Linked DNA regions of Homo sapiens: regions 1 and 2 are each linked to region 3. Evidence: fine-mapped expression QTL. A gene starts in region 3. Each other region holds a variant in brackets. All regions are shown on one strand. Distances are between the middles of the regions. Region 1 overlaps PPP1CB (protein phosphatase 1 catalytic subunit beta). Region 2 has its middle 5.8 kb from the start of SPDYA. Region 3 holds the start of PPP1CB-DT (PPP1CB divergent transcript).

Evidence for each region. PIP is the estimated chance that this variant, and not a neighbour inherited with it, causes the effect.
Region 1: its variant is fine-mapped to the expression of PPP1CB-DT in whole blood (INTERVAL, PIP above 0.99).
Region 2: its variant is fine-mapped to the expression of PPP1CB-DT in whole blood (TOPMed, PIP above 0.99).

The regions. Positions count from the first base shown.
Region 1 is chr2:28,796,841-28,799,602 of GRCh38, reverse strand. It overlaps PPP1CB (protein phosphatase 1 catalytic subunit beta), which reads right to left. Exons shown (of 8, transcript NM_002709.3): 8 at 1-404. The coding sequence ends at 300. Among named protein-coding and RNA genes, the nearest start is that of SPDYA, 13 kb to the left of the region's middle. The variant A/G (reference allele first, on the strand shown) is at 1,621.
Region 2 is chr2:28,803,700-28,806,461 of GRCh38, reverse strand. No RefSeq gene overlaps it. Among named protein-coding and RNA genes, the nearest start is that of SPDYA, 5.8 kb to the left of the region's middle. The variant C/G (reference allele first, on the strand shown) is at 1,515.
Region 3 is chr2:28,750,606-28,753,367 of GRCh38, reverse strand. PPP1CB-DT (PPP1CB divergent transcript) reads left to right here and starts at 1,612. Exons shown (of 5, transcript XR_007086259.1): 1 at 1,612-1,725. It overlaps PPP1CB (protein phosphatase 1 catalytic subunit beta), which reads right to left and starts at 1,538. Exons shown (of 8, transcript NM_002709.3): 1 at 1,192-1,538. The coding sequence starts at 1,243. RefSeq lists silencers at 886-1,105, 1,596-1,785 and enhancers at 968-1,612, 1,916-2,125.

The DNA.
Region 1 (2,762 bases), 46 kb before region 3:
TCTAGTTTAACTGGGATGCTTTTCAACTTTAAAAATTGTGATACATGAAGATGTAACTTTAATGGATAATTTTGAATTTGGATTTAACTTTGTTGACTATAACAGAGTATACTTATTACAATACAGTGTAGCACATCTTTCTATTAGAAAAAAATTTAAGATCCTTTACCCGTCTCCTTAAGTTAAAGGTGTGACATCATAAAGGGTGTCAAATGGCTGGATGGTTTTACAGTGCACACTTATATATTATGAAGTATGTCCTTAACAAATCTGATGGTTTCTTTACAGAATTCCTTTCTTCACCTTTTCTTCGGCGGATTAGCTGTTCGAGGTGGAGTGACAGGACGTCCAGAATTCAGTCCACCATACTGGTATTTAGCTTTCTTTTCAGATGGTTTCAATATCTTAAAGTAAATTATTAACAAATAATGTTATTTTTTCATGTACAGAAGTTAAGAAAATTGTTACAATTGTGATTTTCAATAAATGGCATAAACTGCAAAAATGCAATAAAAATGTAGAATAGCAAAGTTCCATAAACATTTCTTAAAGTGTGCAAATGTCTGAACTTTGTCATTCCACTCATATTTTAATAACAAAAGTACACTAACTCTATCAACTATCCAATCCTTAGATTTAAGTAAAAAACTTTTTGAACTTAGTGTATCTCTGTTGTGAGGAAAAGAACACTGGTTTAAGAGTCAGAAGATCTATGTTGTCATCATAATTCTGATACAGTAACTTAGGAGGGTAACTAACCTACAAGTCACAAACCCTTCAGACCTTATTTATTTATGTATAAATAGATCTTTTTACTTAAAAAACAGCTTTATTGATATAAATCTAATTTTAGAACATTTGTCACCCCAAAAAGAAAGCTTGTTCCCATCAGCAGTCACTCCCCATTCCTGCTCTCCACATCCTCTAACTCTAACCAACTACTAATCTACTATGTGTCTCTATAGAATTGCCTATTCTGAACATTTCATATAACTGGCATCATATAATATGTGGTCTTTTGTGACTGGCTTCTTTCACTCAGGTTTTCAAAACCAGTTTTGAAGTATCAGTCCTTCATTCCTTTTTATTGCTGAGTTGTACATTGTACAGTCCATTGTATGGATGTACCACAGTTTATCTATTCAGTAGCTGATGGACATCTGAATTGTGTGACTTTTTCGGCTATAAGGAATAATGCACATTTATGTAACAGTTTTTGTGTGAACATGTTTTCATATATCTTGGGTATATACCTAGAGGTAAAACTGCTGCATCATATGAGAACTCTATTCCCACCATTAATGTATGAAGATTCTAATGCCTCCAAATCCTTGCCAAAACTTGATACAGTCTGGCTTTTTTACTACACTCATTCTGGTGGATGTAAATAGAGCTTTAACCTACATTATACATAAAAAAGTCATGATTTTCCAAAACTAAAACAGTATAGAAATATGTACAAAGTATTTTTTAAAAACTATTTAGAACATAATAGTGCCTTAGTGAAGAGAATATATTAATCCAACACCACTATGACAACTGCTGGAAGGATAAGGTATGGTTACTATATTTAATTTGTAAATGAGCAATCAACCATTTACCATTCAATTGTACTAATTG[A/G]TGGAAACAGTATATTATGATAAAGAGAAAGAGGAATGGGAAAGCCCCAATGCATTTTAAGAGAAATACAGTGTGTGTACATCAAAGACATAGAATAGCCTTTGCAAAAGCAAAGTACTGAAGCTGTTTTACTCAGTGAACAAGAATGATTTGTAGGAGCACACTAAAGCTAAAACTGGCCTCTTTTAAAAATGTAAATGTTGAAACCAAAAGTTGGTTCTTCAAAAGAATAAACAAGATAGACTGCTAGCTAGATTAAGAAAAGATCCAAATAAGCACAATCTGAAATGAGAAAGGTGACATTACAACCAACCCCACAGACATACAAAATACCTAGAGATTATAAACACCTGTGCACACAAACTAGGAAACCTAGAATAAATGAATACATTCACAAAAACACACATGCGCTCCCAAGAAATGAATTCATAGAAACACACATGACCTCCTAAGAAATGAATAAATTCATAGAAACACACACAAACTCCGAAGACTGAACCAGGAGGAAATTAAAATCCTGAACAGAACAATAACAAGTTCCAAAACTGAATCAGTAATAAAAAAACCTATAAACCAAAAAAAGCCCTGGCCCAGAAAGATTCACAGCTGAATTATATCAGATGTACAAAGAGCTAGTACCAATCCTACTGAAACTATTCCAAACAATCCAGGAAGAGGACCTCCCCCCTAACTCAGTCTACGAAGTGAGCATCATTGTAATACCAAAACCTAGCAGAGGCACAAGGAAAAAAGAAAACCTCAGGCCAATATCCCTGATGAACACAGATGCAAAATCGTCAACAAAATACTAAAACCGAATCCAGCAACACATCAAAAAGTTAACTCACCACAATCAAGAAGGGTTTATTCCTGGGGTGCAAGGTTTCAACATATGCAAATCAATAAATGTGATTCACCTCATAAAATTAAAAACAAACACCATATGATCATCTCAATAGATGCAGAAAGGCTTTCAATACAATTCAACACCCTTTCATGTTAAAAACCCTCAACAAATTAGGCACTGAAAAATTAGGAACATACCTCAAAATAGTAAGAGCCATCTGACAAACCCACAGCCAACATCGTACTGAAAAGGGAAATGCTGGAAGCATTCCCCTTGAGAACTGGAACAAGAGACT
Region 2 (2,762 bases), 53 kb before region 3:
AATATTACACAAATTATACAACTTTCCTAAAATATGTGAGGTGGCTCACTACAAAGGTGACATTAAGATCAAGAAAACAGAATAGAGACTATAGAAAGGGGAGGAAAGAAAGTAATCCTGAGGATCTTGCGATGTTTGTTCTCAGTAACAGGCAACTTCTCCACTATGCCTGTCAGGTGCTAGCTGCAAAATGCTCCTTCAAGAAACTCAGCCTCCCGAGTAGCTGGGATTACAGGTGTGTGCCACCAGGCCTGGCTAATTTTTGTACTTTTAGTAGAGACAGGGTTTTCCCATGTTGGCCAGGCTGGTCTCGAACTCCTGATCTCAAGTGACCTGCCAGCCTTGGCCTCCCAAACTGCTGGGATTACAGGCGTGAGCCACCGTGCCTGGCTGACTTCTTAAACTTACCAATAGTTTACAAAGTAGGGGCCAGAGTTTTGACAAACCATTTATTTTGGCAGTACAGACTCAAATCAATTTTCTCCTTGAAACTTCAGCATTCTTGTCATAAGAGACAAAAGCAGTTACATGAGGATAAAGAAAAACTGGAATTTTATTATTTGTGGTTAACTTCTTCAGGTCAAGGTGTCAAAACAGTAATACAAGTAGAGATTTTTGACACCCACTTGCCATTCATTAAGCAAGTATCTGCAGGCCTCCTATGTGGCAGGCGCCACTCTACGATAAGGAGATACGAATCAGTGAACAAAAGAGAAAAAAAATACCTGCATGGGCGCAATGGCTCATGCCTGTAATCCCAACACTTTGCGAGGCTGAGGTGGGCGGATCACTTGAGCTCAGGAGTTGGAGACCATCCTAGGGAACATGGTAAAACCCCCCACTCTACAAAAATTAGCAGGTATGGTGGCACATGCCTGTAGTCCCACCTACTACGCAGGCTAAGGTGGAAGGATGGCTTGAGCCCAGGAGGTTGCAGTGAGCTGAGATTGTGCCACTGTGCTCCAGCCTGGGCACCATAGCAAGACCCTGTCTCAAAAAAAAAAAAACAAAAAACCCTGCCCATAGAGCTACATTCTAGTCACATACAAGACTGATCTAGGCCTTATGACTTTTAAAGACAAATGTAACAAAGTTTTTTTTTTTTTTTTGAGACGGAGTTTCCCTTGTTGCCCAGGCTGGAGTGCAATGGTGCCATCTTGGATCACTGCAATCTCCACCTCCCAGGTTCAAGTGATTCTCCTGCCCCAGCCTCCCGAGGAGCTGGGACTACAGGTGCGCACCACATCTAGCTAATTTTTGTATTTTTTTTTTAGTAGAGACGGGGTTTCACCATGTTGGCCAGGATGGTTTCGATCTCTTAACCTCGTGATCGGCCCGCCTCGGCCTCCCAAAGTGCTGGGATTACAGGCATGAGCCACCGCGCCTGGCCGACAAATACAACAAAGTTTTAAAGGAGCATTCAACATCCTAATGGATCTGTATAAGAAATAATTGATGATATATTAAAAATAAAATGGGCTGGGCATGATGGCTCATGCCTATAATTCTCCCAG[C/G]ACTTTGGGAGGCCAAGGCGGCAGGATCACTTGAGCCTGGGAGGCTGAGGCTTCAGTGAGCTGTGATCAGGCTACTGCACTCCAGCCTGGGCGAGAGAGTGAGACCCTGTCTCAAAAAAAAAAAAAAAAAAGGGATTACAACTTGTGTTGTCAGTGAGCATACCCAGAGTTTGGGGAATTCACTAAAAGAAGATTAGGGTCTTCCACTCAAAACAGGCTTTACAGTACAGCAATAAAGACTTTTTAACCTGTTCTTTAATATGACCAATAGAATTAATTTCAGTGGAATTATCAAGCTGCAGTTAAGAGATGTGCTACAAAATCTGAGGCAATTACACTGGGAGGCAGAGATCTGTGTTTCTAAAATTTTTTTTTTTTTTTTTTTGAGATGGAGTCTCGCTCTGTCGCCCAGGCTGGAGTGCAGTGGCGTGATCTCAGCTCACTGCAAGCTCCACCTCCCGGATTCACGCCATTCTCCTGCCTCAGCCTCCCAAGTAGCTGGGACTACAGGCGCCCGCCACCACGCCCAGCTAATTTTTTATGTTTTTAGTAGAGACAGGGTTTCACCATGTTCGCCAGGATGGTCTCGATCTCCTGACATCATGATCTGCCTGCCTCAGCCTCCCAAAGTGCTGGGATTACAGGCATGAGCCGCTGCGCCCGGCTAAAATTTCTTATTGAAGTCAGGTAACAGTTTTATGTGCTGGGCCCAGTTATATGTTGGATCCTGAGCCTCACCCAAGATTTCCTGATAATCTCAATTCCTTATTACATGTGATAAACTACATTTCCTAATATGTAGCTTAATTTTTAAGTTGGTAAATTGAGTAGTTATGAGTTCTACAAGACATTAAGTTTTCTCCAGCAACTCCACCCTGCACATCCTCCTTCTCAGGGATTTTTATTAAACTAAGAGCTAGAGAGACAAAGTTTATATTTATTCAAGAATGGAACAGGTGTCAGTCTGTCAATAACCTGCTGGTAAACAGCAGCACTGTCAGAAACCATGCCAATTATCAGTTTGAGTTATACATATATTGGAGGTAGCATTTCAACACTCTGGTTTTGTTTCTTTGGCTTTTTTTTTTTCCAAAAAATATACTAGGAGATTTAAGACTTACTTCAGATTAAACTTGTTACATTAAGAAAACACTCTTGGCCGGGAGAGGTGGCTCACGCCTGTAATCCCAGCACTTTGGGAGGCCGAGGCAGGCAGATCATGAGGTCAGGAATTAGAGACCAGCCTGG
Region 3 (2,762 bases):
TACTTTGAGAAAAAGGAATTACCCCTCCCCCATTACAATATTCTTTGATGATTTTCCAAATATAAGTACATACTGCTTCACTCTAGCAATTATCTTAAGGTAATTTGAAAGCAAACAGTACATATGCAATCGCTGGACGGCGGCTAACAAAGAGGCCTCTAAATTGTTTAAAAAGGATTAAAGGCTTTTCTACACACTCACAAAACAATTATTGATGACGAAAACTTTAGGGTAGAGGGACTGTTTGGCAGAAGACTGCATTTAACTTTGAATAATATCCTGCAATGAATCAATACATTTAACTCCCGGCTAGTCCACCTCTTCGTTTTCCCCCCTTGCCTTCCCACCAACATAAAACTATTCAATAAGAACACTTGAGCCCGGAAAGTTCAAATGCTGCGTAGACCTACAAATACCTTTCGAATACAAGACAGGCTTTAAAAATAGATTTTCACTAAGTTTGTGCAGAAATTAAGCTCTGCTCAAATCAAATGCAAAAGCCAATCCCTTCAGCAAACCCATCTACATACATCACATTTCTTAGGTGCATCTTCAACCTGATCAAATATCTTGTCTTACAATTTTTTTAGGCCAAGTAACAAACGGTAGATTAATTCCCGCTAATTTTATCCTCTCTTTAAGAAGAATCCATTCTATATAGCATTGTGTAAAAATGCAGAGCAGACGAAGCAGTCCTGTTAAGGACAGGTTTATATATATATACGTAAAATTCACTCCCGGAACGACAATCGGAGGCAGCCAAGGGCAATGCACAAAGAGAACAGAGAAGAACAGTGATTCCACGGACGCACAAAGCCCAGTGGCAGGCATCCTCTCCCCATCCTCGGGTCACCGGAGGCGAGCACCACGGCGCGCGGAGCCCGGCGGCCTTTCCGAAAGGCTGTCTCCCGCAGACCCGCTCCGCACAGCCTTCGGCCGGCGGGCCTGGCCCCCGAGGGTCCGCGGGAACGGCCCCCTCTCCCCCGATCTCCCCTGACCGCGCTCCCAGAGGCCGCTCCCCCGCGCCCAGAGCCTCCTCGCCCCCTCCTCGGTTCGTCCGCCGCGCCGCGCTCCCAGAGACTCGTCTCGGGGCGGGAAAGGGGTCCCCTCGCGTTCCGGCGGCAGACGGGGACGCAGGGGTCGGCGGCGGTGCCCGACCTCCCTCTGTCCCGCGGCCAGGCGCGCACTCACCCTCCAGCAGCCGGGTGATGAGGCTGTCCACGTTCAGCTCCCCGTCCGCCATCTTGTCGGCACAGACTCTCCTTCCCAGCAGCGGGAACAAGGGCTTCTCGGCGGCGGAGGCTGCGGCGACGGCTCGGCGTTCTCTCACCTACAAGTCACGCGGCGTTTCGACCCCGGCTCCAACTCCCCCTTTTCCCGGGCCCTCCCCCCACCCCCTCCCCGCCGGGTAGCGAGAGCGCGCGCACACTCGGAGGCACCCACGGAAAATAAATAAATAAACAAGAGAGGCCCCCTCGAACAGGGCCGCGTCAGACCCAGGCCGCCACCTCCTCCTCCTCGGCACCGCCCAGCTCCGCAAAGCTCACCAGCGCCGCCGACGGCCCCACCCGCAGCGCCACTCACTCCGCACGTCCCTTGCGCGCCGCCGCGTCACGCAGCTCTCCGCGCAGGCGCGCGGTGCGCTCCCCGCCGAGGCTCCCCTCGACGCCTGGGCCGCCGCGCAACCGCACTGGAGCGGCTTCTCCCGCTGCCGTCTTCGCGCAGGTGCGTCGCCCTCTCTCCACGTCCACGGCGCCGAGTCTCGCCACGGTGGCGCAGGCGCCAGGGAGGTTCCCCGGCTTTGCCGCGCGGAGGAAGTCCCGGTTACGCAGAGCGCGCTGGGGCAGGGCTGACCTTCCCCTTTCTCTACTTCACTGGCCTCCTCCAGACGTGGTGGTTGCGCCCTTTCGGCCTCGCTTTCCGTTTTTTGGCTTCATCCCCTAGATCTGCAAACAGTTCCTCGTGTTTCTTCCGTTAGCCGGGAAACGCGAACTGCAGCGTTTGGGACCCGGGTTTGCGCGTGTGGAAAGCAAAAGGGGTTACTCTGCTGGAGTTCGACATTGCAAATAAAGGTCTTTATCCCCGGCGGTTCTACAAAATTAGTTCTGCAGGGATTCTGGTTGAAAGAAGCGTTAAAGTGGGCCTTGTAGGAGTCAGCAATAATCCAATTTTACATGGGTGCAGGTGGCTGCCTGTGTCTAGCGCTTTCACACATCTCATATCTTCATCCACGCCGTGGGTATTTTTTTTCCACGGTGTGTTTCTGTTGCTGCCTCCAGTATATTGCTTAATCATCCTACCTGGTAATTATTTATGCATTTTTCTCCTACTCTCGACTCAGCTCCTAGGGAATAAAAACACATTAACTTATCTTTGTGCCCACAGCACCCACCAAGTATTTCCATCACGTAATACTGCCTCTAGAAAGGCAGGAGGAGAAGCAGTCACGCTAAGGATCTAGGCAAGCCAGATCTTTTGTCCGGTTTTAGGAGGTGGCCAGCCCTTACTTATTCCACAAGTGTTTTTCCAGAAACTCAGACTTGATATTGCCTCAAGTCCAAGGCAGTGTGCTTCCCCCACTCACATATCACTAATAGTAGCTAACATTTGTTCAGATCCCTGTATGTACTCTGCCACTGTTTTAAATGTTACACCCGGGTTACCTCATTTAATCCTTACAACTGCCCTGTGAGGTAGGTACTATTATTATCTCTACTTTGTAGATGGGATTCACCGAGGCACAGACGGTTAAAAAACCTAGC